Homo sapiens: one gene and its partners. The protein of the gene in region 1 purifies or fractionates together with the protein of each later gene. This does not show direct contact. Each region holds a gene or a part of one and is shown in the gene's direction. Other genes may lie near its edges.

Region 1 (5,583 bases):
CTGGGGCAGCAACACCAATTACTTTGCTCCACCGACCTACCAAGATTCAGATAGAATCATTGGATTGACTATTAATAGTTTTCTGCTGATAGTTGCTGCAAGCAACTGCAGCTTGCTCCTTAGCCTTCTACTGACTTGCTGTATTTAGCATATTTTATCAAATTTTGCAACCTCCTCTCCTCATTGCCCTCACTTGAGTTTTTGAGGTTCCTGTTTGTGGACAAGACTTACCAGATGTATGAAGCTGGTTATATAACTGATTGGTCAGCAAATATAATGAGGACGGACCCTGCGCCCACCACCGTGTACCTGTGTAAACACCATACTGCGCAAAGTCCACCAGCCTTCCAGGGAGAACATGCTGCACTGTGGGCGACACTGCCTCCGTTCCAGCAGCAATGTAAGCGGAGTCTGGGCTGACGATGGACGTGTGGATAGCCTGTATGTGTATATCTGTGCTCATGCTTCTAACACACATCCACCCTATTATGGACACGTTTATACATCTTCATGCCATGGTATTTTGTACCTTACTGCAGACCCTACCAACGCTTCAGTGAGGTTCTGGCAGCTTTGGGTTTTTGGAGGCTATTTGTCTGTTGCTGCGGGGACGGCTTTCAGAAAGAATGATCGCTTTGGGGGAATTGTACCCTGCTTTCCTGCGCAAATTCCAGCGGCTGGAGTTTGAGGCCCCTAGCAGATAACCCTTCTGCCCCTACCCCCATGAGTCTACATACAAGAAATACATCTCTAAAGAGGTAATAAGCCTTTCCGGTGTGCATGTTACAGATCTCTTAACCTTATATATACACAGATGGTCCATCACTTACCGTGGTTTCACTTACGATGTTTCGACTTCATGATGGGTTCACTGGGACTTGACCCCATTTTTTTTTTTTTTTTTTAGACGGAGTCTTGCTCTTGTCGATCTCTGCTCACTGCAACCTCCGCTTCTTGGGTTCAAGTTATTCTCCTGCCTCAGCCTCTTAAGTAGCTGGGATTAAGCGCCACCACGCCGAGCTAATTTTTGTACTTTTAGTAGAGATGGGGTTTCACTATGTTGGTCAGGCTGGTCTCGAACTCCTGACCTCAGGTGATCCGCCTGCCTCAGCATCCCAAAGTGCTGGGATTACAGGTGTGAGCCACCGCGCCCCCTGACCCCTTCTTAAGTGGAGAAATATCTGTATCTGCATGCCCACAGGGGAGCTCCTAATTACACCATGTGCCGCATCCAAGCCACAGGCCGGTGATGTGAAGACACCCGATCCAAGAAATACAATAGCATTAAGAAAGAAAAAATGCTGCCATGGATACTACCAAACGCCAAATGACTCTAACACGTAGGCTAATTGCAAGGACCTTAAAATCGCAAATAAAAAGGCGCCTGTAGGTCGGGCGCGGTGGCCCACACCTGTAATCCCAGCACTTTAGGAGGCGGGCGGATCACCTGAGACCAGCCTGGCCAGCATGGCGGAACCCCATCGCTACTAAAATACAAAAATTAGCCAGGAGTGGTGGCGCATGCCTGTAATCCCAGCTACTCCGGAGCCTGAGGCAGGAGAATCGCTTGAACCCAGGAGGCGGAGTTTGCAGTGAACCGAGACAGCGCAACCGCACTCCAGCCTGGACGACAGAATGAGACTCCGTCTCAAAAAAAAAAAAAAAAAAAAAAAGCGAGGGCTGGAAGTCTGGAGCAGGTGCGCGGCTGCAACGGCAGCCGCGGGAAGCTCGGGCCGGCAGGGTTTCCCCGCACGCTGGCGCCCAGCTCCCGGCGCGGAGGCCGCTGTAAGTTTCGCTTTCCATTCAGTGGAAAACGAAAGCTGGGCGGGGTGCCACGAGCGCGGGGCCAGACCAAGGCGGGCCCGGAGCGGAACTTCGGTCCCAGCTCGGTCCCCGGCTCAGTCCCGACGTGGAACTCAGCAGCGGAGGCTGGACGCTTGCATGGCGCTTGAGGCAAGTTCGGGGCTCATTTTGGAAGTTTTCTTTCTAGCACAGACATCCAACTCTGCTCCTATGCCAGTCAGATAATTAAGGAATTAAGTAATAATTGTGCTCTGCAAATTATGATAGTGATCTGTATTTACTACGTGCATATATTTTGGGCCAGTGAATTTTTTTCTAAGCTAATATAGTTATTTGGACTTTTGACATGACTTTGTGTTTAATTAAAACAAAAAAAGAAATTGCAGAAGTGTTGTAAGCTTGTAAAAAAATTCAAACAATGCAGACAAATGTGTCTCGCAGTCTTCCACTCAGTATCATTTTTGTTTGTACCTTATCAGAAATGTTTCTATGTACAAGTCTTTAAAATCATTTCGAACTTGCTTTGTCCACTGAGTATATTATGGACATCTTTTCATGGCAGGACATATAGATGTGTTAATGGCATTAAAAATAAAACAAAAAACTGATTCGGCCGGGTACGGTGGCTCACGCCTGTAATCCCAGCACTTTGGGAGATCGAGGAGGGAGGATCACCTGAGGTCAGGAGTTACAGACATGGAGAAACCCCGTCTCTACTAAAAATACAAAATTAGCCTGGCGTGGTGGCGCATGCCTGTAATCCCAGCTACTCGGGAGGCTGAGGCAGGAGAATCGCTTGAACCCGGGAGCGGAGGTTGCGGTGAGCCGAGATCGCACCGTTGCACTCCAGCCTGGGCGACAGAGCGAAACTGTCTCAAACAAACAAACAAAAAAACCTGATACATGGTATGGGAAGTACATTGTTTAAACAATGCATGGAGATTTAGGTTGTTTCCAGTTTTTACTGGCACAGATACGGCAATGAATATAATTTTATGTATACATTCATACAAATATATCGGTGGAAAATTCCTAGAAGTGGAATGGCTGGGTCAGTGGGCATTCATATTGAGAAATTGGAAGGATGTTGTCAAACTCTGCAAATCAGAGTATTTTAGTCTTAACCTCTCTTCTTCACACCCTTTTCCTTGGAAGAAAGCTAAATTTAGACTTTTAAACACAAAACTCCATTTTGAGACCCCTGAAAATCTGGGTTCAAAGTGTTTGAAAATTAAAGCAGAGGCTTTAATTTGTACTTATTTAGGTATAATTTGTACTTTAAAGTTGTTCCAGAAAACAAGGCAAATACTGAAAAGCATTTCATCTGAAGTTTCTTTCTGGTATTGAACAGAGTTGGATGGAGAGTGAATGCAGGTTACCGATGTGTTCGCAGGAACAAAACGGGAGGGAGAGTAACACAGGTGCACGGCTTCATATTGATTTATCAAAGAACTTGCTTTTGGACTGTTAAAAAATGTGTTGCACAGTTCTGACACTTTTACACAATGATGAGCTTACAAAGGGGAAAATGCTTAACATAAACATAGTTTCAAAGAAGGTAAGTCCTAGTTTTTCCACGAGCTGTTTTTTTTTTTGAGAGAGAGTAGTCCCAAAATTTCCCTATTATGTGGTTTTTCATCCAAAGTGTTGTAATCCGTGTGTTCTAACCCGCATATTACGATTACTCAAGAAATGCAAAATAGGCCGGGCGCGGTGGCTCACGCCTGTAATCCCAGCAATTTGGGAGGCCGAGGCAGGTGGATCACGAGGTCAGGAGATCAAGACCATCCTAGCTAACACGGTGCAAACCCATCTACTAAAAATAAAAAATATTAGCTGGGCGTGGCGGCAGGCGCCTGTAGTCCCAACTACTCGGGAGGCTGAGGCAGGAGAATGGCGTGAACCTGGGAGGCGGAGCTTGCAGTGAGCCAAGATCCGGCCACTGCACTCCAGCCTGGGCGACAGAGGGAGACTCCGTCTCAAAAATAAAAATAAAAATAAAAAAAGAAAAAAGAAATGCAAAATAATGTGAACACGTCATCGAGACTGCGGTCTACAATTGTGGTTGCCATGATGGGGTGGGTCGGAAGACACCGAGGCTGCTTGAATCATGTTCCTGGCAGGTTAATTTTGTTCCTTTTAGGGCATCTAAATGTTGGAGTTGGCTTTCCTGGCAGAGAGTCCAGTTGTGAGTGGAGTATTGGGTGGAGGCCCCACCCTCCCCAGGTTTTCTGCAGCTTGTTCCTGGCTCTTCTGGGGCTTCTCTGAGGACCCCGATTGGTCCTGGGGCTTCTTTAGTGGTGGGCCTGGGCCAGTTCCTTCCGTTGCTCACCTCTCCCCGAAGCTTAAGGATAACATTTCGGGAAGATCATGAGAGAACGTGAACCAAAAAAAAAAAAAAAAATTCAGGTAGGGTGGGAGCTAAGTTAGTTTAGTATTTGGGATTTTTGTTTTGTTTTGTTTGAGACAGAGTCTCAAACAAAGACCCCGCGCCTGGCCTGGGGGTCTTTTTTTGAGTCAGCAGTTGAGTTTGAAAATCCCCTTCCTTGGAATCCGCCCAGGCTGTTTTCTCTGGTGGATGCTTATTGCCCCTGCTAACTTCAGCTGCGGTCTCTCTGCTCGCCTTGCCCTCCCCATCCTCCTTAGACCTTTTAAGCTTCACTTTCCTTTCCTTGCTGCCCCGCCTCCCTGTCTCCCCAGTGTGATCTACCCTGAAAGGCTGCTGTATTTTGTTTCCCTTTGGGACCGAGCCTGCTCAAATGATCTGCTCCATGAGGTTTTACTGCTATATCCTACTGAAGTATCTGGGAGGTCTTGGCGGAGAAGAGGACAACATCTTGGAAAATGCAGCCTGGAACCTCTCTGCTCTCTTTCATCAGCTTTCCCTCAATGATGAGCTCAAAATCCTCTTTCTTGCTGATGGAATTGTCTGCTGTCATCATTTCAGTTGAGTCCTCCTAGGCTGGGCCTTGTAAGAAGAACAACTGTTTATAACTATTGAAAGTCAATATTTACTAAGAAAAAGAGGTTGTTGTTATCTGAGCCATCCAACATGAATTTAAGAATATATTCCAGGCTGGGCGCGGTGGCTCATGCCTGTAATCCCAGCACTTTGGGAGGCCGAGATGGGTGGATCACCTGAGGTCAGGAGTTCAAGACCAGCCTGGCCAACATGGTGAAACCCCGTCTCTACTAAAAATACAAAAATTAGCCATGCGTGGTGGCACATGCCTGTAGTTCCAACTATTTGGGACACTAAGGCAGGGGAAGTGCTTGAACTCGGGAGGCAGAGGTTGCAGTGAGCTGAGATTGTACCACTGCACTCCAGCCTGGGTAAAAAGAGTGAAATTCCATCTCAAAAAAAAAAAAGGAGACAGGGTCTTGCCCTGTTGCCCAGGCTGGAGTGCCGTGGCACGATCATAACTCACTGTGGCCTCAAATTCCTGGGCTCAACTGATTCTCCTGCCTCAGTCTCCCAAGTAGCTGGGACCACAAGTACATGCCACCATGCTAGGCTAATTTTATTTTTATTTTTAGAAAATAAAATATTTTTTATTTTATTTAGGCAACATGCTATGTTGCCTAGACTGGTCTTGAACTCCTGGCTTCAAGCTATCCTCTTGCCTCAGCCAACCAAAGTGCTGGGATTGCAGGTGTGAACTGCCATGCCTGGCTTTCTATTCTCTATTTCTAGGAGATAAGCTTTTTGAGCTTTCACATATGAGTGTGAACATGTGGTATTTATCTTTCTGTGCCTAGGTTATTCCACTTAACGTAATG
Region 2 (4,901 bases), on another chromosome or scaffold:
TTGGCAGTGGGAGGAGCACAAAGGCATGAAGCTGGAATGAGCTGAGACTGTTTAGGGGACCATGAGGAGACCTGTCAGGGTAGAAAATTCTTTTTTTTTTTAATTAATTAATTCATTCATTTTTTTGAGATGGAGTCTTGCTTTGTCACCCAGGTTAGAGTGCAGTGGCACGATCTTGGCTCACTGCAACCTCTGCCTCCCAGGTTCAAGCGATTCCCCTGCCTCAGCCTCCTGAGTAGCTGGGATTACAGGCATGTGCCACAATGCCTGGCTAAATTTTTGTATTTTAGTAGAGATGGGGTTTCATTATGTTGGCCAGGATGGTCTCTATCTCCTGACCTCGTGATCCGCCCACCTCGGCCCCCCAAAGTGCTGGGATTACAGGTGTGAGCCACCATGCCCAGCCAGAAAGTTCTTACTGTTAAGTGTGGAGAGGTTAAATGGGAAGAGTGGACTAGATTATTGAGAACCTTGGATAATTGGCTAAGAGATTTTTTTCTCTGTACAGTGGGGAGGGAATCATTGAGCATATTCAAGAATTACCATGCACTGTATGATCTACCTGAATGTGTGTCATCTCCAACTAGAGTGACACCCGTGGGAATAAGAGTAGAATTGTCCCTTGGTGTCTGTGGGGAACTAGTTCCAGGACCCCCACAGACCCCACAGATAGAAAAATCCATGGATAGGCTGGGCGCGGTGGCTCATGCCTGTAATCCCAGCACTTTTGGGAGGCCGAGGTGGGCGGATCACGAGGTCAGGAGATCAAGACTATCCTGGCTAATACTGTGAAACCCCGTCTCTACTAAAAATACAAAAAATTAGCCGGCGACTGCACTCCAGCCTGGGTGACAGAGCGAGACTCTGTCTCAAAAAGAAAAGAAAAGAAAAGAAAAATCCACAGATGCTCAAGTCCCTTATATAAAATGGTATAGTGTTTGCATATGACCTATACATATCCTCCTTTATACTTTAAATATCTCTAGATTACTTATAAAACCTACTACAATGTAAATCTATGTAAATAGTTGTTAATACTGTATTGTTTAGGGAATCATGACAAGAAGAAATTCTGTACATGCTTAGTATAGACACAGCCATCCATTTTTCCCCCTTCATATTTTCTATCTACAGTTGGTTGAATCTGCCCATGGATGCAGAGGGCCAACTGTATGTCTGTCCTAGGTACTGTGAAACTAAATCACTGAAACTAAATCACTGAAAACTCTAGCTGCAGATAGACTGGAACTTGGAGAGTCTGGAAATAGAGAGTCAAGAGAGGCTATTAAAGTTTGGCTGTGTCGTGATAACTACTATAAATTTGGTACATTCACTCACGGAGTGAGTATTTTGCCATGCCCTGTGTTAGGTACCTGGAACAGTACCTAAGATAGACAGTTCCTAATAACCCATGGATCCCATTCAGGTTGGGGATAATAATCTAGTTGGGGATAATAATAATTATTATTAATTTTTCTCCATAAGTTAATAATTATAGGAGCATGGTAAGTACTTTGGGTATAGGGTGAGTACACAGTCTTAGAAGAGGAAAAACAAGGAGGATTTAGCTGGTCTTGGTTGGTCAGGAAAAGCTTATTTAAAGAAGGGCTTATAAACTGAGACCTGAAGGTTGAGTGAGGAGTTGTCTGGGTTAAGGGCTGGCAGCAGGAGGTGGTGGTAGGGGAGGGGTTGAGGCATAGACACCACAGGGTTAGGTCGGAAGATGAGAAAGAACATGATGCATTTCAGGAAGGAGCATAGAGTGTGGAGGTGTCTGGGGCTTTATCAAAGTCCTGTCAGCCAAGAGCAGTAGGGAGCATTGACACTGAAGGGTTTTAAGCAGGAAAGTGACGTATTTGTTTACATTTATAAAATTCACTAGAACTGAAAGTAGAATGAGTAGAAATTAAAAAGTTGGCTATATGCTAGGCATGGTGGCTCATATCTGTAATCCTAGCACTTTGGGAGGTTGAGGTGGGAGGATTGCTTGAGCCTAGGAGTCTGAGGCTGCAATGAGCTATGATCACACCACTACACTCCAGCCTGGTTGATAGAGCAAGATGCTGTCTCAAAAAAAGAAAGAAAGAAAGCAAGCTGGGTAGAAATAGAGATGAGTTTAAAGACAAATAAATACTGTTGATTTTGAGATAGGCCTTTAAGTACAAGTATCATGACAATAGGATGACTTTTTTTTGAGACAGAGTCTTGCTCTGTTGCCCAGGCTGGAGTGCAGTGGCACAGTTTCAGCTCACTGCAACCTCCACCTCCCGGGTTGAAGTGATTCTCCTGCCTCCGCCTCCTGAGTAGCTGGGACTACAGGCACGTGCCACCATGCCCGGCTAATTTTTGTATTTTTAGTAAAGACGGGGTCTCACCATGTTGCCCAGGCTGGTCTTGAACTCCCGACCTCAAGTGATCCACCTGCTTTGGCCTCCCAAAGTGTTGGGATTACAGGCATGAACCACCACGCCTGGCCTAAATGATTGCCTTTACTGAGGTCAGGAGTTCGAGACCATCCTGGCCAACATAGTGAAACCCCATCTCTACTAAAAATACAAAAATTAGCCATGGTGATGCACACCTATAATCCCAGCTACTTGGGAGGCTGAGGCGGGAGAATCGCTTGAACCCTGGAGGTGGAGGTTGCAGTGAGCTAAAATTGTGCCACTGCACTCCAGCATGGGTGACAGAGCAAAATTCCATCTCAAAAAAAAATAATAACACATTTTTTAAAAACTATTTTTAATAGTTCTATCAAGTCAGATCCAGTGTAGTTCAACAGAAAAAATTTAACATGGGGGTGAGATACAAAAGTTTTGGCAGAGCTAAATGAGCATAGAGGACAGTGATTCAACAGCAGGAAGCTGCTACCACCTCTAGGATAGGAGAGACCAAGGGAGCAGGTGGGAGTCCAGGAGCTGGGGCCACCTGCAAAAGCTAGAACCACAGAATAGTCACTGCCACTGCCGCTCGTGCCAGAGGAGGTAGGGAGAGAAAAAACCTGACTTCTCTGCCCTCTTCTCACCTCCAGTCTCCCACCAGAGCCTCCCACTGACCAAATCTAACTGGAAACCAACAGGCATGGGAGCTGAGAAATGTAATTTACCGGAGTAGCTCCTGTGAGACAGAGTAGGGAGAGGAAGAGTGAAGAATGGATCTGAGAGCAAATAAGCAGATGAGGAGCACGAATCCTCCCACCAGCATTGTATTCCTGGTACAACAGAGGCTCTCCAAGATCGTGCATCATCTTGTAACCAAAGAAGATCTACCCACAAGTTCAGAACAGTTTAGCATAGAGTCAAGTATTAGGAGGCCTTGCTTCTTACCTCTATGGTTTCACGTCATTGTATCGCCTCCCTTTGGATCTCTCCCTTATTTTGGGTGGAGGAGCTTCTTTGGCTGGAGCCTATGCTGATGGGACCAACGTTAGAGCTTTGATGCAGAGAAAAATTTAAATTCTGCAGGTACATACTGTTCTTCCTCCCCTTCTTTGCCATCTTGTAGACCTGGGCCTTTTATTGCAGAGGGGACCAGGCGAGAGAGAAGCTAGGGGTTCAGTGCATCCCGTCTTTCTCCTGGGAAAACAGGACAGAGTTTGTGCTCCGTGAAGGTGTGTGAAGGAGGCCATAGAGGTGGGCAGTGGTATGCTGCTCCCAGTCATCTCTGCAGAGGCCAGTGGCTGTTTTCATGAAGGCTCTTCCTGCGTAAGACTGTAGTGTTTCTAATTTGCCCCAAGCACAGGGCATATGTAATTTGGAGTTTCCCTGGATTGAGGACAGCTAGAAGCAATCTATATGCAAGATGAGGATGTGCGCACTTGAGACTTTCACTCAGAAATAAGATGATGGAAACTGGCTTTTCTCTATTGCCTGTTTTTCTCTCTCTTCCTAATAGGATGGCGATGTTATAGCCCCACTCATAACACCTCAAAAAAAGGAATGGAACGACAGTACTTCAGTCCAAAATCCAACTCGCCTCCGAGAAGCATCCAAAAGCAGAGTCCAGCTTTTTAAAGATGACCCAATGTGAATGTCTGTAGTCAGTTGTTTACAAACTCCCTCTCCTGCACAATTCATTTAGAGGCTTCAATCATAGAATTCTGCAAATTAATGACAACTCATGCTTTAATTTTGTATTTTGAATGTACACGCATGCTGAAGCTAAGTAACTTTTAATCAAAGAAATAAGATGGTATTAGGCAAATCTTACTATACTATGAAAAGCATTACCTTGCCTATTTTTAATATTATTAAAGCCTTTCTCCTTCAGTAGTCTATTTTCTTAGAATAACAACTCTTTTATCTATTCTGAACTCTATTTTTTTTCTTTTTTAAGAGACAAGGTTTTGCTCTGTTGCCCAGCTTGGACTCGAACTTTCCTGGGCTCAAGCGACCCTCCTGCCTCAGCCCCCCAAGTAGCTGGGACTAAAGTCATGTGCCACCACACCCAGCTTACTCTGAACTTTTATGACAGATGATTGTTTTTTGTTTTTAATGTAGAAATGAGACAAGGGTACAAATTGGAACTAGAAATTGACATTGTCATTGACAAACATGGCTAAAAACAAAACATCAAATCCTGCCCCCGTGAAGAGTTCCCTGTCACCTCAAGTTTGAGGATAGTCCTCTAAGAGTGACCTAAGCATAAGTGAAAGACACCTCCCCTCACCCTTCTAGCCCCCTACAAGGTGCCAGGTTGGGGTAAAGAGTTGGAGATGATGGCCAGGAGTGGCCTCCAACACGCTGGTGAGAGGCCTGATTAGGTTTTGGGGAAGATCTGAGAGCTCTGGCCTCTTCGTGAGTGGAACATAAAGCCGCCTCTTGTTGGGAGATCCTACCCCAGTGACAGAGGAATCCCCCAAACTAGGCTGTGCCCTGGCTCCGTGGCGGCTCCAGACCCGG
Region 3 (4,901 bases), on another chromosome or scaffold:
ACAACCAAAATTATCATCAACTACAGTCTTGAGCAGCCTAGCCAACTTCAAGTTGTTCCTCAAAATTTAAAAAAAGAAAATCCAGTCGCTACAAACAGTTGTAAAAGTGAAAAGTTACCAGAAGATCTTACTGTTAAGTCTGAGAAGGACAAAAGCTTTGAAGGGGGGGTGAATGATAGCACTTGTCTTCTGTGTGATGATTGTCCAGGAGATATTAATGCACTTCCAGAATTAAAGCACTATGACCTAAAGCAGCCTACTCAGCCTCCTCCACTCCCTGCAGCAGAAGCTGAGAAGCCTGAGTCCTCTGTTTCATCAGCTACTGGAGATGGCAATTTGTCTCCTAGTCAGCCACCTTTAAAGAACCTCTTGTCTCTCCTAAAAGCATATTATGCTTTGAATGCACAACCAAGTGCAGAAGAGCTCTCAAAAATTGCTGATTCAGTAAACCTACCACTGGATGTAGTAAAAAAGTGGTTTGAAAAGATGCAAGCTGGACAGATTTCAGTGCAGTCTTCTGAACCATCTTCTCCTGAACCAGGCAAAGTAAATATCCCTGCCAAGAACAATGATCAGCCTCAATCTGCAAATGCAAATGAACCCCAGGACAGCACAGTAAATCTACAAAGTCCTTTGAAGATGACTAACTCCCCAGTTTTACCAGTGGGATCAACCACCAATGGTTCCAGAAGTAGTACACCATCCCCATCACCTCTAAACCTTTCCTCATCCAGAAATACACAGGGTTACTTGTACACAGCTGAGGGTGCACAAGAAGAGCCACAAGTAGAACCTCTTGATCTTTCACTACCAAAGCAACAGGGAGAATTATTAGAAAGGTCAACTATCACTAGTGTTTACCAGAACAGTGTTTATTCTGTCCAGGAAGAACCCTTGAACTTGTCTTGCGCAAAAAAGGAGCCACAAAAGGACAGTTGTGTTACAGACTCAGAACCAGTTGTAAATGTAATCCCACCAAGTGCCAACCCCATAAATATCGCTATACCTACAGTCACTGCCCAGTTACCCACAATCGTGGCCATTGCTGACCAGAACAGTGTTCCATGCTTAAGAGCGCTAGCTGCCAATAAGCAAACGATTCTGATTCCCCAGGTGGCATACACCTACTCAACTACGGTCAGCCCTGCAGTCCAAGAACCACCCTTGAAAGTGATCCAGCCAAATGGAAATCAGGTAAAAAATAACCTCCATCCTGAACCTGGCTAGTAATATGCTATTTGACTAATTTCAATTAACTTTGTCTAATAAATATCAGTCCCGTAGAGCCAACTAGATTATTACAAACTGTCATTTTTAAAAGGATCAATGTTTGCTTTAACTTTTCTGGCATGATGTCTTCAGTTGGTTGTTTGCTAATCCAGGGTATTGTTACCAGCTTAAAGTTTGAAATGCTATTCTACTGAAAGATGATTTTTAAGTCCCAGCTAAAAACCTGTTTGAAGTTAGAAATCAAAAAACAAAATTGAAATACTCGCTAATTGGGTTTCTGTTTTTATAGCTAAATTCCTAAAATTAGTAATAGTTTCTGCCTTGATTATGGTCATTAATTAATGAAAATATGTTCCCATTCACAGGTTCATACCAGGCAAACTTATCTATCACTTTTATATACTAATACATCTGTTTATAAAAGGTTTTAATTAAATAAACAGGAATGAAGTATACAAAGAACGCATCTTGTGAATTTACTGATCATTTTATGAACTGTGCATAAACAGTGTTCAGTCATAATGTATATGAGGAAGTGTGGCTGTGAACCTAAAAATACATATGCATTTTCCTCCTTAACTATCACAGTGTTTACCACAACAGTGTTTATTCTGTCCAGGAAGAACCCTTGAACTGGTCTTACCCCAAAATCCACAATAGTTTTGGATAGAGCTATTGTATGCCTCATTGTCCAGACTTTTTCCATGTCACTGATGTTGATGTTTTCCCATTTTTTCCATCAATTTCTGATGGAATCAAATGAATACTAGAGACAAATTTGATATTTTATGCAAATATTTTCTATAAGTATAATAATTTCAATATCCTGCTCAAACTTGTATTTGCTGCTTTTGTTTTCCCTTAAATATTGCTATTGATTGGGTTTCCTGTAATTGTGATAACTCTTGAAAAAAAGTTCTTACGTGATCATTGAATTCCTCTAAATTTTTAGTGTACAGAACACTTTGCATGCCTTTGAATAGAAAAAGAGCCATCCTTAGCATTTCATAGACTCACGTGTCACGTGACTAGATCAAGTAGCAGTGAAAGTAGAATCAAGTTACTTCAGCACCAGGGCCACTCACAAATGACAGGGACAAATGGCTGCACCTCTCTTGCCTCATAGAGCCATAAGAAATGTTGTGAAAAACCTTCAACTTTTAGAAAATGTGTGGGTTTGAGGCAATGGCGTGGAACACTCTAGATAAGGTAGGAAGATCTTAGGGGACCCAGTTCCACAACAGGCTCCCTGCAGGGTTATTTGGCTTACATAAGAACGTGCTGCCCAAAATTATCTCCATGAGACTGCCTGGAGTTTCTAAAGGTTCATTTTGATTAGCAATTATTTCTGTTAAAAAGATAGACCCTCCTGCATTGTTTTTCCATCTTGCTCCTTAGACAAGTGGTAGAGCACACCTCTCTCTTTTCAAGGAGACCGTGGAGGTTAAAGAACCCTGAAGTTCTGGAGGATACAATTGAAAGACCAGGTTTTAAAAATAGAATGTTAGCTTTTGCTTAGTGAAACCCAGAATGAGAAAAATGAAGGCAAAAGATGCAGTTAGTAATGAGCGATTAATTAGCAAACTAATAAGTTAAAACCTTCTGCAAATTTCTCGTAAAGTAATGATTCACATGAAACTAGGTAAACTCTGTTACTATATATTTTACATGCTTTCTTTTCGGTGTCCTTGCTTTCTTTCCAGTACCAGTTGAGTATATGTCTTTGCTATGGTTTTGACTGTGTTATCCCCAACCTCACTCTTGTCTTTGTCATCTCCACCTGTGATCTGGCCCCACCCTTGGGGCACATGTGCAGTGAAGATCAGTGTGCTTGCTTTGGTCAAGTCCTTGAAAGTATAAAAGTATAAGTTAAAGTAGTTCTTTATCTCATGCTTTTATGTATATCTCTTGTTTATCTTTTAATGTTAAATTACATTTTCTCACACCTTTCTCCCTCTAGGATGAAAGACAAGATACTAGCTCAGAAGGAGTATCAAATGTAGAGGATCAGAATGACTCTGATTCTACACCGCCCAAAAAGAAAATGCGGAAGACAGAAAATGGAATGTATGCTTGTGATTTGTGTGACAAGATATTCCAAAAGAGTAGTTCATTATTGAGACATAAATATGAACACACAGGTATGTCAGTGAACACAAACATAAAGTGTCCATGATATGATATACTGGAAGATGCAAAATTAAAAACTAAAGTTTTAGAATTTTCTTTCTTTTTTTTTTTTTTTATTTTGTTTTGAGACAAGGTCTGGCTCTAGTCACCCAGGCTGGAGTGCAGTGGCACGCAATCTCAATCTCGGCTCACTGCAACCTCCGCCTCCCGGGCTCAAGCCATCCTTTCATCTCAGCCTCCTGAGTAGCTGGGACTATAGGCACATACCACCACACCTGGCCAATTTTGATATAGACGGGTTTTGCCATGTTGCCCAGGCTGGTCTTGAACTAATGAGCTCGAGCCATCTACCCACCTCGGCCTCCCAAAGTGCTGGTATTACAGGCATGAGCCACCACGCTTGACCCAGAATTAATTTTCTTATTTTTTACTTATCTGATCTGGCCATTTTCACCTGTTTGCCCACTTCTACCTAGTACTTAAGGTCTGTGCCTTTCTTTTGGTTTTTTGCTTCATCTGTTTTTTTGTTTTTTTCATGACTTATTTCCTTTAAGCTGACACAGCATTTATTCTGTCCGCATTCATTTAATGCAAGCTTATGCTATATTAATAAAAACATAGTACATAGTACCCATTAATAAAAAATATGAGACCAGTGGGCTAAAGTCATAGGGAGACAGGATCTGGCTTCATAAAAGAAAAAGCTGCTTCATAAGCATGCGGCAAGCTGTCCTGGCAAGTCAAGATCTTTTGTTTTAAGTAAGAAGTTCTGCCTAAGAGGTTGGACTAGAAGATTCTAAGATCCTGTAATTCTGAGATCCTGTAATTCTGCCACAAAATATGCCTCCTTAGGTTGACTCAGGGATGGCAAACTATAGCTCACAGGCCAAATGTGAGCATACGCATGTTTTTCTATGAGGTAAGAATGGTAGTTTTTGATTTTGTTTTTACATTTTTAAATGATTGGAAAAGATGAAAAGAATATTTATGACTGATGAAAATTATGTGAAAGTCAAATATCAGCATCCGTAAATAAAATTAGTTGGAAGACAGCATCGCCTATTCATTTACATTTTGTCTATGTCAGCTTTCATGCTGTTCTACAATGGCAGGATTGAGAAGCTACTACAGAGACCATTTGGCCTGCAAAGCCTTTAATACTCACTACCCTTTACAGAAAATAGTTGCCAACTCCTGGCCTATTTCATTCCTTCCATCAGTGAAGTACTGATAAATTTTAACACCTGGTTCTCTGAAGGGTGGGGAAGCCCTGATTTGTAGTGTTTGCAGCTTTTTGTGGCATAAATACTCCCATCATGGTGGATTTCGAGCTTGAATGTGATGTCAGCTTGCAGAATTCCTGAAAATTTAGCAGTAGACTCTCTCCAGCCAGTACAAACTGGCTCCAGCACACTCCTGTGTCTCTCTCTAACATGGGTTGCTGTAGAAGGGGCTGGGTTTATCCTGAGCTCTTTAATCCCCTACCTGCTCTTCCCTGCCCCCACTACCAGCCATTATGACTACAGTATCCATATTTATCT
Region 4 (4,901 bases), on another chromosome or scaffold:
CCTGGCTAATTTTGTATTTTTAGTAGAGAGGGAGTTTCTCCATGTTGGCCAGGCTGGTCTCAAACTCCCGACCTCAGGTGATCTGCCCACCTCAGCCTCCCAAAGTGCTGGGATTACAGGCGTGAGCCAGCACGCTGGCCAGCTCAACAAATTCTTATGACTTCTGGAGTTAAGAGTTCTTAAAATTCTGTTCTTAAGACTTATTTCTGACTAAATTTTTCTCATAGAAAGCACATCTGAGAAAATACATACTGATTGATACGTTAACTTCATATCAGATGCCTAGTAGGATTGTGATGACTCCTTGGTTGTCAAATGTTTCCACTCCTAAACCTTCATCTTCATAGGGTTTCTTGGAAATCATTCTCAATAAACTGTGAACATTTCCCTCAGATGCCCAGCTGTTGGAGAGAGAAGAATACAAGTTAACTCTCATTTAGACCACAGTCAGTGTTGAGTAGTTTTTACAGATTAACAGTAGTTGATGTTGTTATAGAGTATGCTTATCCCTATTAAGTGAGTAAATAGAGGCTCAACCGCTACAAGAAATGAATGCTTTATGTAATTGGCAAATTGATAGGTGTCATCTTATTAGAGAAGAACCATAGATATGAGTATCAGACTCTGGCCATCCTTGTGGGTTTTTTTTGGTTTTATTTATCTTTTTTCCTAAACCATCTAAATAAGTGATGATAATATCATGCCCCTTTATCAGTGATTATTTCCTAAGGACAAGGACATTTTCTTACATCACCACAATGCAATTACCAAATTCAGATATTTTAACATTGATATAATGCTATTACCTAATTAACAGTACACATTCAAATTTTTAACAAGTATCTCCATATTATTCTTTATATCTTTTTTTTCTTTTCCTAACCCAGGATCCATTCCAGGGCTATGCGTTTATTCACATCTCTTTAGTCTCCATTAATCTGGAATAATCCTCAAATTTTGTCTCATCTTGATATTTTTAAAGAGTACATACTAGTTGTTTTGTAGATGTTTCCCAGTTTTGATTTCTTTTGTTTCCTTGTGATAAGATTCAGATTATGCATTTATAGTGGGAATAGCACAGAGAATGTTGCATCTTCTGAGTCTCTTTATTATTTTTCCTTATAATTAATAAGTAATTTGTGGGAATTTGAGACTATTTAAATATCCTTTTCCTTATATTTCACCTGCTAGTTTTAGTTCCTGTGGATAATTCTAACTCTGTCATTTCTGTTATATTTATTTATTGTTGTTCTGTAAGGAAGAACATTTCCCTTCTCCTCCATATGTTTGTTTATTTATGACAGTGTAAACTCGTGGATTCTTATTCTGATCAGTGGATATACTACATTCCCATCACTATTTAGGCTCCATTTGTCCCAAATTTGGCCAATGAGAACCACTTCAACCTATTGGCTAGCTATTTTGAAATGTTTGAAATCCACAAAAGAATAACAAGCTTGAATGTCGTACTTCGGTGGAATTTAACATTCTGAAAAACAGCTGTGACATAATGCCACAGCCTCACTCTGGCTTATTGATCAGAGATGACAGGAACAATGCTATTTAGCAGTGCTTTGCAAGTTTAACTAGGTCTGTGTGCTTTATTTAGCAGATTTGTATTCTTTATGGAGAAGAGTCAAAAATATATCTTGAGTTCTGTATTTATGTGGAACAGATTCATGAGTTTTCTTTGGTTAGAGGGCATAACCTCTGCAATACATTATGACTATAGTGACAGGTAGAACAGCATATTATCAGGAGGCGGATTTGTGGTAGCCGTCTACCAAGAAGAGCAGTCATGGCAGCTGTGTACCTGACCAGGTAGCTGTAGGTCGACTGCAGTAAGGACTATTTCTAAAAAAGTATAAAACATTTAGGCTGGGTGTGGTGGCTCACACCTGTAATCCCAGCACTTTGGGAGGCCGAGGCAGGCGGATCACTTGAGGCCAGGAATTCAAGACCAGCCTGGCCAACATGGCGAAACCCCATCTCTACTAAAAATACAAAAATTAGCCAGATGTGGTGGCGGGTACCTGTAGTCCCAGCTACTCGGAAGGCTGAGGCAGGGGAATTGCTTGAACCCGGGAAGTGGAGTTTGCAGTGAGCCAAGATCATGCCACTGCACTCCAGCCTGGGCGACATAGTGAGACTCTGTCTCAAAAACAAACAAACTAAAAAGGATAAAACATTTTCTAATCTTGAGGATTCACCGCTAAGAGTATATATTGTGAGGTTTGGCATTAAAAACCTGCACAGATTGAGTCATTTTTTTTTTTTTTAAGGGAGACTTAAAGGCCAGGCATGTGGTAATCTCAACACTTTGGTAGGTAGCCAGGAGTGGTAGTGCATATGCCTGTGATCCTAGCTTTAGCTACTGGGGCAGCTGAGGCCAAAGGATCTCTTGAGCCCAGGAGGTTGAGGCTGTAGTGAGTCATGTTCATGCCACTGCACTCCAGCCTGTGTGATAGTGAGATACTCTCTCAAATAAAATGAGACTCATAAAAGTTACTGTTCACTTAAAAATATTTATGACTGAACTCTGCTTGGTAGCTTTTCATTTTTATAACCTAAGCTACATTTCTAAATAGACTTAAATTTTGTACTTTGTTCTTCCTTTTTTTAAAATAGAAAGTGACTTCAGTGATGATTTTAGTGATGATTTTGTAGAAACTCGGCGAAGGCGGTCAAGGAGAAATCAGAAAAGACAAATTAACTACAAAGAAGACTCAGAAAGTGACGGTTCCCAGAAGAGTTTGCGACGTGGTAAAGAAATAAGGCGAGTACACAAGCGAAGACTTTCCAGCTCAGAGAGTGAAGGTAAGGCATAGGTCTCCTATATATAGAAGTTTGGACAGGGCAAAATAGACATTATAAAGTGAACTCAGGATTGTGATTCTGTACCATTCTTTGAAACTCATATAACCAGGCCAGGCATGGTGGCTCACGCCTGTAATCCCGGCAGTTTGGGAGGCCAGGGCATGCAGATCACTTGAGGCCAGGAGTTCAAGACCAGCCTGTCCAACATGGTGAGACCTTGTCTCTACTAAAAATAAAAAAATTAGCCTGTGTGGTGATACGCGCCTGTAATCTTAGCTACTCAGGAGGTTGAGGCAGGAGAATTGCTTGAACCTGGGAGGCGGAGATTGCAGTGAGCCAAGGTTGTGCCACTGCACTCCACCCTGGGTGACAGAGCAAGACTGTGTCTCAAAAAAAAAAAAAAAAAATCCATATAACCAGTAGTATCTTTGAGATAAAACCTATAATCTTGTGCCTACCATAGTTTAAATAAAAGATACTCGATAAGAGGCTAATTTTTAAGATCTCCATTGTAATTTAAATTTTCATTGAAACTAGAAAAGTCTCAGAAAATTGTGATCTGATCAAGATTATTCTACTTCTTTTTCTTACTCCCTTATTCATGGCCCTCATTTTGAAATAACCTCTTATGTCCTTAATAGCTAAAAGGTTTCAAATAAAAGTGCCTACTGTCTCTTTCACCTTGACTATGATTTCAGTTGGAAACCGAAATCATTATTTCCTAATAGCTATAACTGTGCCCCCTACCAGTAGTACAAGACAAGCTCTAAAATATGAATTTCTTACATCCATTTAGTCTTTTTTGTTTTACTTAAATTATATATATATAGTGTATATATATATACACACATATATACATATAAATATATATATATATATATATATATATATATATATATATATTTTTTTTTTTTTTTTTTTTTTTTTTTTTTTTTGGTGACAGAGTCTTACTCTGTCACCCAGGCTGGAGTGCAGTGGTGTGATCTTGGCTCACTGCAACCTCCGCCTCCCAAGTTCAAACGATTCTCCTGGCTCAGCCTCCCAATAGCTAGGATTTTAGGCATGTGCCACCAAGCCTGGCTAATTTTTGTATTTTTAGTAGAGATGGGGTTTCACCATGTTGGCCAAGCTAGTCTCGAACTCCTGACCTCAGGTTATCCGCCCACCTTGGCCTCCCAAAGTGCTGGGATTACAGGCGTGAGCCACCGCGCCCGGCTTTATGGCCTGTTTTGAAGATTGTTTTGCTTTCATAGATTAAACATGAATTTAAGTTTGAGCCCAAGACAAAAGAGAAAGGGAAAAAAAATGTTTGGATGTGGGATGCTAAAGAAGGGAAGTGAACATCTTTTTCGAATGTGTACTTACCTTCATGTGTCACAGAAACAAACATAAATTGCATTAGTTAAGCCATTAAATATGAATATTTATTAAGCTAGGCCCTATTCCAAGCACTGGAATATAACAGCAAACAAAATAGCTCTTATGAAACTCTTATTTTAGTTGGGAAGAAGGTGACAATAAACAAGATAGATAAGTAGAATATATGATATATTAGAAATGAGTGCTTTGGAAAAAAATAAAGGAGAAAAGGGGGTTGGGAAAGTAGTTGAATTTCAGATAATATACTAAGGAAATCCTCACTAAGAAAACATTTGAGTGAAGACCTGAAAGAAATGTTGTGTGTGAGTCATGCACTTATCTAAAAGAAGAATGATACAGGCAGATGGAACAATAAATATGAAGGCCTTGAGGTATGTTTGTGCTTGTCATGTTCAGCAAACAGAAGGGAGTGCAGGGTTGTTGGAGCAGAATGAGTGAAGGCAGACATAATGAGATGAAGCAAAGAAGTCAGTGGGGGCCAGTCAGCAAACGAGAGCCCACCTGCTTACATAAATAAAAAAGCAAGGTTTTTGTTTTTGTTTTTGAGACAGGGTCTCACCCTGGCTGGCGTGCAGTGGCACAATCACAGCTCACCATAGCCTCAATCTGCTGTGCTCAAGCAGTCCACCTGCCTCAGCCTCCCAAGTGGCTAGAAGTGGCATAAGCCACCACACTGCTAATTTTTAAATTTATTTTATAGAGAT
Region 5 (4,901 bases), on another chromosome or scaffold:
AAATCCTTTCAAATTTGATCTTCAAACTATATTCAGAATCCACTCATTTTTCATCAGCTCTGTTGCTTCCTCTGTTCTGAGCCAACATCTTGCCTAAGTTTTTGCAATAAATTCCTTACAGGTCCCCTTGTTTCTGCCCTTTACAGTCTACAGTGTATTTTCAACACAGTAGCTAGAGAGGTTCTTTTAAAATATGTCATCCCATGGGAGGCTTTTTATTAAGAAATAAAGAAAAATAAAAGAAAAGGAGAAAAATAATAAAATATAAGTCAGATCATATCTTAACCTCTGCCTGAAATCCTTCAAGGGCTTCCTTTTTCTCTCGTAAGATGAGCAGAGTCCTTGTAGTGCTTACAGATGAGTAGAGTCACGCACCTGGACTATGAGGCCATAGCCCTATCTGTTCATCTTGCTCTCACCTCCCTGTCTTCAACTACCACTCTCTGTTCTGTTCACTCCGTTCCAGCCACACCCACCTTCTTGCTGTTCTTTGAACATGGCCTGGCATGCTCCCTCTTCAGGGCCTTTGCACTTGTTATTTCCTCCACCTAGAATTTCTTTCCCATGTAACTACCTCACTTGCTTCATCATCAGCTCCCTCACCTAAACCTTCAGTAACCCTTTCTTCATACATCACCCTTTTTAAAATTCCATCACACTGTCAGTTCTGCACATACCGATTTTCCCTGCTTTGTTTTTTTCACAGCACTCATTACCATCTGACCTATTACATGTTTGATTTTCTGTTTCTTGCCTCTCCTAAAGGCATTTTTGACTGTTCTATAATATATCCCTAGTGCCATGGTGTTTGATCCAGTCATGTTTAGTAAGCATTTATTGAATGAATGAATTCATAAGGTACAATATCTAAAAGATAGAAAAGAGGCTGGGCACAGTGGCTCACACCTGTAATCCCAGCACTTTGGGAGGCTGAGGCGGACAGATCACTTGAGGTCAGGAGTTCGAGACTAACCTGACCAACGTAGCAAAATCCTGACTCTTTCTAAAAAACTACAAAAATTAGCCAGGCATGATGGCACATGCTTATAATCCCAGCTACTCGGGAGGTTGAGGCAGGAGAATCGCCTGAACCTGGGAGGCAGAAGTTGCAGTGAGCCAAGATCGCACCACCGCACTCCAGCCTGGGTGACAGAGGGAGATCCATCTCAAAAAAATAAATAAAATAAAAAAGGTTTCGACTGAAAAGTTTCCTTTGCACCCTTGCCTCCCAACCACCTGTTTCCCTTTCTAGAAGTCTCCAGTGTTTCTCGAGATATTATCATATGTATGTTTTTCCCCTAAATGTTCTACACCTTGCTATTCTGATTTTTAGTTTATATGTCCTGCAAATCATTTCAAGCGAATACATAAATACATTTCTTCTTGGGTTTTATGACTAATGGCTGAAACGTGATGAACTGTGGGTGACTGAGCCCTCTATACAATTTGGGTTATTTGTTTCTCTTTTGGATAAGTAACTTTTTTTTTTGAGACAGTCTCACTCTGTTGCCCAAGCTGGAGTGCAGTGGCACGATCTCAGCTCACTGCAGCCTCCACTTCCCAGGTTCAAGCAAATCTCCTGCCTTAGCCTCCCGAGCAAGTAGCTGGGACTACAGGCACGTGCCACCACACTGGGATAATTTTTGTATTTTTAGTAGAGACAGGGTTGGCCACCATGTTGGCCAGGCTGGTCTCGAACTCCTGACCTCAGGTAATCCACCTGCCTTGGCCTCCCAAAGTGCTGGGATTAACAGGCATGAGCCACCGTGCCCAGCCTGGATAAGTAAATTTTAAAAAGCAAACAAAACAATTACTTTGGGTACCGTTTTATGTATACTTGTTCATCATACTGCCAGTTCTTTTTCTAATTCTCCCATGATGTTACATAATTATACATACTTTATAGAGATAGGGATTAGTAATACTGTAAGCATAGGATTATCCAGTTTATAAAAGCTTCCCTACCTTCAGTTCTGTGACCTTAGGTATGTCACTTTCATCTCTGGGCCTGAGCTTTCCCATCAGCTGAAACAGGTGAGTGATTCTCAGTGGGATGGTAGTGAGGAAAAAATTGGAGAGTAGGAGACTGCTTTCAGAATGTACTTCCTCTTGGACACTCTGCTACACCCTTCATTGAGGTACTCCCTGGTAGAAAACCATTGCCTTGATAAGTCACTTCAGTTACTTAATTGAAGTATTGTATCCCTTGGGCATGCTGGTTAGGAAAAATTTAGAACCCTCAAACTGAGTGACCTTTTTACACTCAGTTACAGCATTTGATGATCCCTACAGTCTACATGCATGTGTGCTTTGTATACTGAATGGCTGATGCCAAAGGTATTTCTTAGGTCTCAGATCTCTCGAGGCAAAAGGGATCTTTCTATACTTTTCTTTCCTAAATGTTAAGGTAAAATATGAAGGATAAAAGAATTTAAGATGTTGACTTATTATCCCCCTTCCAGTTGTAAAAGACATTTTAATAATTTTTGTAGAATTTAATCAGACAGGTCAGAACTCCTTGTGAATACAATTGTGAGACAGTTTTTTGAATGCCGTTCTCATGGTGCCTCAGTCAAGCTTACCTGGTGGATTTGTGTCTGGCAGGGAGTGAAGAGCAAGGCCAGCCTACCCAACTTTCTTGACCACATCATTGCCTCAGTGGTAGAAAATAAGAAAACCTCAGATGCTTCAAAGCGGGCCTGCAACTTGACTGATACCCAGAAGGAAGTGAAGGAGATGGTGATGGGGTTAAATGTGCTAGATCCCCATACTTCTCACTCCTGGCTTTGTGATGGGAGGCTTCTGTGTCTCCATGACCCCAGCAACAAAAACAATTGGAAGATCTTCCGGGAGTGTTGGAAGCAAGGTCAGGTAAGCAAGAATAAGTCGTTCCAAGGGCCAATTCTCTGCCTGCCTACCACAGATACCTGGACAATTCCAGGTCTCTCTTTTTGCCAGGGAGATTTAGACATAGTGAGGTTATTGTAATAGCCTTGCTACTTCGAGTTGTCTTGGATTTTTAAAAGCAAGGAGATGGCCAGGCACTATAGCTCACGCCTGTAATCTCAGCACTTTGGGAGGCCAAGGCAGGCGCATCATCTGAGGTCAGGAGTTTGGCCAACATGGTGAAATCCTGTCTCTACTAAAAATACAAAAAAAATTAGCTGGGCATGGTGGTGGGTGCCTGTAATCCCAGCTGCTTGAGAGGGTGAGGCAGGAGAATCACTTTACCCGGGAAGCAGAGGGTGCGGTGAGCCAAGATCATACCACTACATTCCAGCCTGGGCTACAGAGCAAGATTCCACCTCAAAAATAAATAAATAATAAATAAATAAAAGCAAGGAGATTACTAAAAACACACTTTGCATCCTCTTGTTTCTAAGCTGTATAGTTCTGTGTTCTTAAAAAGGCAGTTGAAATTTCTGTTAGGTGGTGATCTGGCATTGATATCTTTAGAGAAAAATCCTTAAGTGTGATTTTAAGATGGGGCAGAGAAGGGGTTGGAGGTAGGTAGTACTTTTCTAGGCAAATGTTTTAAGGCCACACAAGTTTTTTGATAGTGTGATAACACTCCCTAGTTTAAAAACTTTAGCAGGTGCTTGAGGAAGGGGAGCTCATGGCATTGTCATTTTCAATATGAGGAAGTGTTCTCAAAGTTGGACTTGTCAGATTTTTGTCCTTTCACCTTAAAACAATGGTAGGTATTAGGGCAACAGAAGTGATTTCCCCAGGGTGAGAATGAAGCATAACAATGGAGTAGAAGCATTTCCTTTCACTTTAGTTGACATGTGGAAATCCATGGATTATACAACTAGGAAAGAACAGTAGAGCTTCCTGGAGAAGAGGAGGCCCTCCTCAGGAAACCCTCCTATTCTGTCTCAGCCCTAGAGCTGGAAGTTTTTCCTAGATTGCTCTGATTGGGATATTTTTGTTTCCACAGCCAGTGCTGGTTTCGGGGGTACATAAAAAGCTCAAGTCTGAGCTCTGGAAGCCAGAAGCCTTTAGCCAGGAATTTGGAGACCAGGATGTAGACTTGGTGAACTGCAGGAACTGTGCTATAATTTCCGATGTGAAAGTTCGGGATTTCTGGGATGGTTTCGAGATCATATGCAGTAAGTAGCTTTCATATCTAGTTCAGTGATAGCAGACTGGAAAATAAGCATCTATACGCCCAGCTCTGCCCTTGAATAATAAATTATATTCTGGGGCATAATGGGACTTGAAAAAATAAATGAATAAAAAATTAAAAACAGACAGCCGGGCGTGGTTGCTCGCTCCTGTAATTTCAGTCTTTTTGGAGGCTGATGTGTGGATCACTTGGGGTCAGGAGTTCAAGACCAGCCTGGCCAACTTAGCGAAACCCCACCTCTACTAAAAATACAAAAATTAGCTGGGTATGGTGGTGTGTGCCTATAATCCCAGCTACTCAGGAGGCTGAGGCAGGACAGTCACTTGAACCCAGGAGGCAGAGGTTGCAGTGAGCCAAGATGGCACCACTGCTCTCCAGCCTCGGTGATGGAGTGAGACTGTCTCAAAAATAAATAAATAAATAAATCCAAATTATACCCACTTGGTGGGGGAACATTCTGCCCTGGTGCCAACTGTGTAGCTTACATGGCAATCACATGACTCCCAGAGCATGCCTGGACTTAATCATGTGATTCCATGGGCTATGCAGAGCACTTTCACTCTGAGGAATGGGGATAGAATCCCCGTAAGATGGAAAAATAAGACACACACTAAAGTAGCAAGTGAGGAAAACAAAGCCCACCTTGTCCATTATGGGGGTTTACAAGTCTGAAATAAAAGGTTAATCTCCCAGGGCCAGGCACGGTGGCTCACACCTGTAATCCCAGCACTTTGGGAGGCCGAGGCGGGTGGATCACAAGGTAAGGAGATCG
Region 6 (4,901 bases), on another chromosome or scaffold:
AAAGTTAGCAGGATGTGGTGGCATGCACCAGTAATCCCAGCCACTCGGGAGGCTGAGGCAGGGAGAATCACTTGAACCCAGGAGGCAGAGGTTGCAGTGAGCCAAGATCATGCCATTGCACTTCAGCCTGGGAGACAGAGTGAGACTCTGTCTCAAAAATAATAATAATTTTTTTAAAAAGAATAAGCCAAGAGATTGTGGAATCTTCAATTCTAAAGAATATAAATCATTTATGACTAATATAAAATCCAGTTCAAGTGGTGTAAAGTTGACTTTGCTATTAGAAAAGATGTCTCCATGATTAGAATTTATAATGAGGTGTGCTAATAGGTGAAATGACAATCCCCAGTGCATGCTACTCCGTCCACCTGTTAGCCTTCTAACAGGGTTTAAGATTAATGAAGATTTCTGGATGGAAATCTTCATGAGAGATGGTAAATCAAGATTCACTGAGATGAAATAAGGGGTATTGTTTTTAGGTTTTGTGATGGGTTGAGCAGAGGTCGGCATAGTCACTTGTTTGATTTGATGCACATTGGTGGAGTTTTAAATGCACAGTGTGGAAGGGAATGAGCACTTATCAGAACAGAAGGAAATGTGTGGTTAAACGGTTTCAGTTGTAACTAAAGACTATTTCCCTTGGTCCAAATAGGAGGAGAAATGGAACCTTTTGTATTTTGGTTATTTTCCAATATAAGTAGAAATTGGTTCATTGTGGTTTATTGCAGCCCTTAGCAGAAATGATTGGGTTCAGTAGTGAAGGGGAATGACACAAATATGTACCAGGAAAGCATAAATTTTTATTTATTTTTTATTTTTTTGAGACAGAGTCTTGCTCAGTCTACCAGGCTAGAGTGCAGTGGTGCGACCTCAGCTCACTGCAACCTCTGCCTCCCAGGTTCAAGCGATTATCCTGCATCAGCCTCCCAAGGAGCTGAGACTACAGGCACACACACCCACGCCCAGTTAATTTTTGTTATTTCTTGTAGAGACAGGGTTTCATCATGTTGTCCCAGCTGATCTTGAACTCATGACCTCCTGCCTTGGCCTCCTAAGGGGCTAGGATTACAGGCATGAGCTGCTGCGGCCAGCCAGAGGGTATAAATTCTATAAGTACTATTTTAAAGGTATCTCAGAGGTAATTTTTTTATCATGTTTATAATTATTGGCAGTCAGTTATTGTTATTAAACATCTCTAAAAACAAAAAGAATCCAAGAGTCTGAAGAGACTACTGAAATGAGTTTCAAAAAAAAGATGCTTCCAGCTTTTTCCTCAAAATGAGAAACTGTTTTACAGATTTTTATATAATTAAACAGGTAATAAATAATGCCAGATTTTAGCTCACAAAGCACTGGATTTCCCAAAGGAAATACATTTGGTGCAGGTAAATGAAAAGCCTCGTTAATAAATATATATTTGATAATCTGCAGGTTTGAAAACTCACTGAAGAATTCCCACTTCCTCTGCATTAAAAATACCTTGTTCAAGGCAGTAAATATTAACCTATGCTGGTTTATTCAGAAACTCATGTTAAACAAGGTAGAGAAGACCTAAAATTATGTGTTTTGTTTGTTTATTTGTTTTTGAGACAGAGTCTAGCTTTGTCACCCAGGCTGGAGTGCAGTGGCACGATCTCAGTTTACTGCAACCTCTGCCTCCTGGGTTCAAGCGATTCTCCTGTCTCAGCCTCCCAAGTACCTGGGATTACAGGCACCCGCCACCATGCCCAGCTAATTTTTGTATTTTTAGTAGAGACGGGGTTTCACTTTGTTGTCCAGGCTGGTCTCGAACTTCTGATCTTGTGATCCACCCGCCTCAGCCTCCCAAAGTGCTGGGATTACAAGCGTGAGCCACCGTGCCCAGCCCTAAAATTATGTTTTTAAAAGTAACTATTAGGTTAGTGTGGTATTAGGAGTGGGAAGATTGTAGAAACTGTAATAAATTTCTCTTATATTGTTTATCTCTATCACAATAAAATATTCACCTCAGGATGATAGAATTAACACCGTCCTTTCTGGGTGGATAGTTACTCTTGGGAACAATTGTATTTTGAGCCAATATGAGAATTAATTTGGTGATCAAAAATGATCTAAATTTGGGTATGATGTATACCTAAAGCAATTTTTATTCTAGAGTTATTTATTTACTTGAAAAAGAATGGTGCAGAAATGGGTTTTTGTTTTTTGTTGTTGTTTTTTATTGTTGTTGTTTCAGAAGAAAAGTTAATAAAAGTGTAAAACAGAAGTTTTCTTTTTTTTCTCTCTCTTTTTTTTGTTTGAGACAAGTCTCACTCTGTCACCCAGGCTGGAGTGCAGTGGCACTATCTCGGCTCACTGCAATCTCTGCCTCCCGAGTTCAAGTGATTCTCTTGCCTCAGCCTCCCGAGTAGCTGGGATTATAGCTGTGCGCTACCATGCCTGGCTAATTTTTGTTATGTTCAGTAGAGATGGGGTTTTGCCATGTTGGCCAGGCTGGTCTGAAACTCCTGACTTCAAGTGATCCGCCCAACTTGGCCTCCCAAAGTGCCGGGATTACAGGCATCAGCCACCGCGCCTAGCCAGGATGTAGGAATTTTCTCATGAAGCTGAAGGTTCACCAGATGAGAGATACTTTTGGTTTCAGGAATCTTGAAGATCTTTTTAAAATTTATTGGTACTTTTTTAAACTGCAGTGCATAAAGTATAGTGAACATATTTAATTTGTCAGTGACTTGAGATGTTACCATATCCTAGGATACTTATTTTCGATATTTCTCTAATGTGTAAGTAGATATACTTGTTGGATGTGATACAGTATGAAGCCTGGCTAATTTTGTCATCTAAAGGTATTATGTGTAAGGAATAAACACATTTCCATTTATTAAGAATTCAAGATGCTTGGTTAAGTTTATTCATTTTTTTATTTTTATTTTTTTACTTTTTAGAGGTGAGGTCTCTCTGTGTTGCCCAGGCAGGTCTTGAACTCCTGGCCTCAAATGATCCTCACACCTTGGCCTCCCAAAGTACTGGGATAACAGGCATTAGCCACTGGTGCCTAGCCTTTTTGTCTTAGTTGATTTTGTTATAGTATTTAAGAATTTCAACAGGGAGTTGAAATAAGTAGATTTTGGGTTAACTTACCAGTTTCTAGATAAATAATTGATACATGTAGTCAAACCCTGTGACCTTAAAACTTTTCTACTATATTTAAAAGACTGATTCACCTTACTGTTGCCTATTGGGAAAAGTAAAAAATAAATAAATAAAAAACTGTGAAATAGCTTGAATTAAATTTCATAAGTCCCATATAAAGGATAGCAGTGTTTTGTTCCGAATTATTTATGGACACCTAAAGATAACCACATACTACTTAATGTGATATAATAGTAAATATTATACCAGTTAAAGTTCTTTGGTTAAAAGCAGTAGAAATCAACTCTGGCTAACAAGACAAAAAAATAAAAAGAAAAAAAGATTAATTATCAGGAATCTGTGAGATAGCTTATAAAACTGAGGGGAGTATCAACAGCCTGATCCTGCATGCTCCAGGAACCCACGTTGAGGGAAGCAGTGCATGCTCTCTTCAGAGGGTGGTGGCTTCCAATTGTTTTCCATCTTTCTACCCAACATTCAAAAATCAAAGTGTCTGGCCGGGCATGGTAGCTCACGCCTGTAATCCTAGCACTTTTGGAGGCAAAGGCTGGCAGATTGCCTGAGCTCAGGAGTTCAGCACCAGCCTGGGCAACATGGTGAAACCCCATCTCTACTAAAAATACAAAAAAAAAAAAAAAAATTAGCCAGGCATGATGGTGAGCGCCTGTAATCCCAGCTACTGGGGAGTCCGAGGTGGGAGAATTGCTTGAACCCGGGAGGCAGAGGTTGCAGTGAGCTGAGATTGTGCCACTGCATTCCAGCCTGGGGAGCACAGCGAAACTCCATCTCAATCAATCAGTCAATCATAATTTTATTCATCTTTTCTACAGAGTTTATATAAGTAAGTTTAATCTTTTTATTTTCATGTGTCTGATGGTTTTCAATTATTTTCATCCTTTTCTGTGTCTTAGGTATATTTGAAGGCTCCCATGATTCTGAATGGAGTCTGTGTTATCTGGAAAGGCTGGATTGATCTCCAAAGACTGGATGGTATGGGCTGTCTGGAGTTTGATGAGGAGCGAGCCCAGGTAGGGTAACATCAGGCTTTATTGAGCATGGTCCCTTTAGTCCCTAATCTTGCCTTTGCCTGGGGACCTATTTTACCCAATTTTTAAGAGTAAGTATAGAAAGTATTGTGTTGAAGCAATATTGAGGAATCCTGAAAATGTTGATACTCAAATTCTGATCCTGATTTTGGGAAAGTTTTTTCTTCAGCAGTTCTAAATTTCATGGGTTATTCGTATCTGCTCAGTGGGTGCTTCAAAGTCCAGCAAGTAGCTCTTTAAAATATTTATTCTTGATCTTTAGAACACTATGAATAGGGAAAAAAGAAAAAACTGTTCAAAATAAAATGTAGGAGCCGTGCTTTTGGAATGCTTGAGTGAGGAGCTCAACAAGTCCTCTCCCAAGAAAGCAATGATAAAACTTGACAAAAATTGTTTAAAAAAAAAAAAAAAAAGCTGGACGTGGTGGCTCACACCTGTAATCCCAGCACTTTGGGAGGCTGAGGCAGACGGATCACCTGAGACTTGAGGTCAGGATTTCGAGACCAGCCTGGCCATCATGATGAAACCCCATCTCTGCTAAAAATATAAAAATTAGCCAGGCATGGTGGTGCACACCTGTAATCCCAGCTACTTGGGAAGTTGAGGCACGAGAATCGCTCGAACCCAGGAGGCAGAGATTGCGGTGAGCCGAGATTGCGCTACTGCACTCCAGGCTGGGCAACAGAACAAAACTCTGTCTCAAAAACAACAACAACAACGAAC

What was found.
Region 2: the proteins of USP18 (region 1) and SAMHD1 purify together in Homo sapiens (affinity purification with western blotting; one study listed by BioGRID). This does not show direct contact.
Region 3: the proteins of USP18 (region 1) and ZEB1 purify together in Homo sapiens (affinity purification with western blotting; one study listed by BioGRID). This does not show direct contact.
Region 4: the proteins of USP18 (region 1) and RSF1 purify together in Homo sapiens (affinity purification with mass spectrometry, with the first as the bait; one study listed by BioGRID). This does not show direct contact.
Region 5: the proteins of USP18 (region 1) and KDM3B purify together in Homo sapiens (affinity purification with mass spectrometry; one large-scale study listed by BioGRID and IntAct). This does not show direct contact.
Region 6: the proteins of USP18 (region 1) and CBFB purify together in Homo sapiens (affinity purification with mass spectrometry, with the first as the bait; one study listed by BioGRID). This does not show direct contact.

The regions. Positions count from the first base shown.
Region 1 is NC_000022.11:18,148,270-18,153,852, forward strand, and holds the start of USP18 (ubl carboxyl-terminal hydrolase 18), read left to right. Parts: upstream 1-1,900; 5' UTR 1,901-1,953; intron 1,954-5,583. UniProt on the Homo sapiens protein: Interferon-induced ISG15-specific protease that plays a crucial role for maintaining a proper balance of ISG15-conjugated proteins in cells. Regulates protein ISGylation by efficiently cleaving ISG15 conjugates linked via isopeptide bonds.
Region 2 is NC_000020.11:36,892,060-36,896,960, reverse strand, and holds part of SAMHD1 (deoxynucleoside triphosphate triphosphohydrolase SAMHD1), read left to right. Parts: intron 1-2,725; exon of another isoform or gene 2,726-3,031; coding exon of another isoform or gene 3,032-3,055; exon of another isoform or gene 3,056-3,894; coding exon 3,895-4,029; 3' UTR 4,030-4,901.
Region 3 is NC_000010.11:31,520,743-31,525,643, forward strand, and holds part of ZEB1 (zinc finger E-box-binding homeobox 1), read left to right. Parts: coding exon 1-1,194; intron 1,195-3,190; coding exon 3,191-3,371; intron 3,372-4,901. UniProt on the Homo sapiens protein: Acts as a transcriptional repressor. Inhibits interleukin-2 (IL-2) gene expression. Enhances or represses the promoter activity of the ATP1A1 gene depending on the quantity of cDNA and on the cell type.
Region 4 is NC_000011.10:77,669,958-77,674,858, reverse strand, and holds part of RSF1 (remodeling and spacing factor 1), read left to right. Parts: intron 1-2,628; coding exon 2,629-2,817; intron 2,818-4,901. UniProt on the Homo sapiens protein: Regulatory subunit of the ATP-dependent RSF-1 and RSF-5 ISWI chromatin-remodeling complexes, which form ordered nucleosome arrays on chromatin and facilitate access to DNA during DNA-templated processes such as DNA replication, transcription, and repair.
Region 5 is NC_000005.10:138,421,471-138,426,371, forward strand, and holds part of KDM3B (lysine-specific demethylase 3B), read left to right. Parts: intron 1-2,604; coding exon 2,605-2,871; intron 2,872-3,940; coding exon 3,941-4,112; intron 4,113-4,901. UniProt on the Homo sapiens protein: Histone demethylase that specifically demethylates 'Lys-9' of histone H3, thereby playing a central role in histone code. Demethylation of Lys residue generates formaldehyde and succinate. May have tumor suppressor activity.
Region 6 is NC_000016.10:67,062,639-67,067,539, forward strand, and holds part of CBFB (core-binding factor subunit beta), read left to right. Parts: intron 1-4,043; coding exon 4,044-4,160; intron 4,161-4,901. UniProt on the Homo sapiens protein: Forms the heterodimeric complex core-binding factor (CBF) with RUNX family proteins (RUNX1, RUNX2, and RUNX3).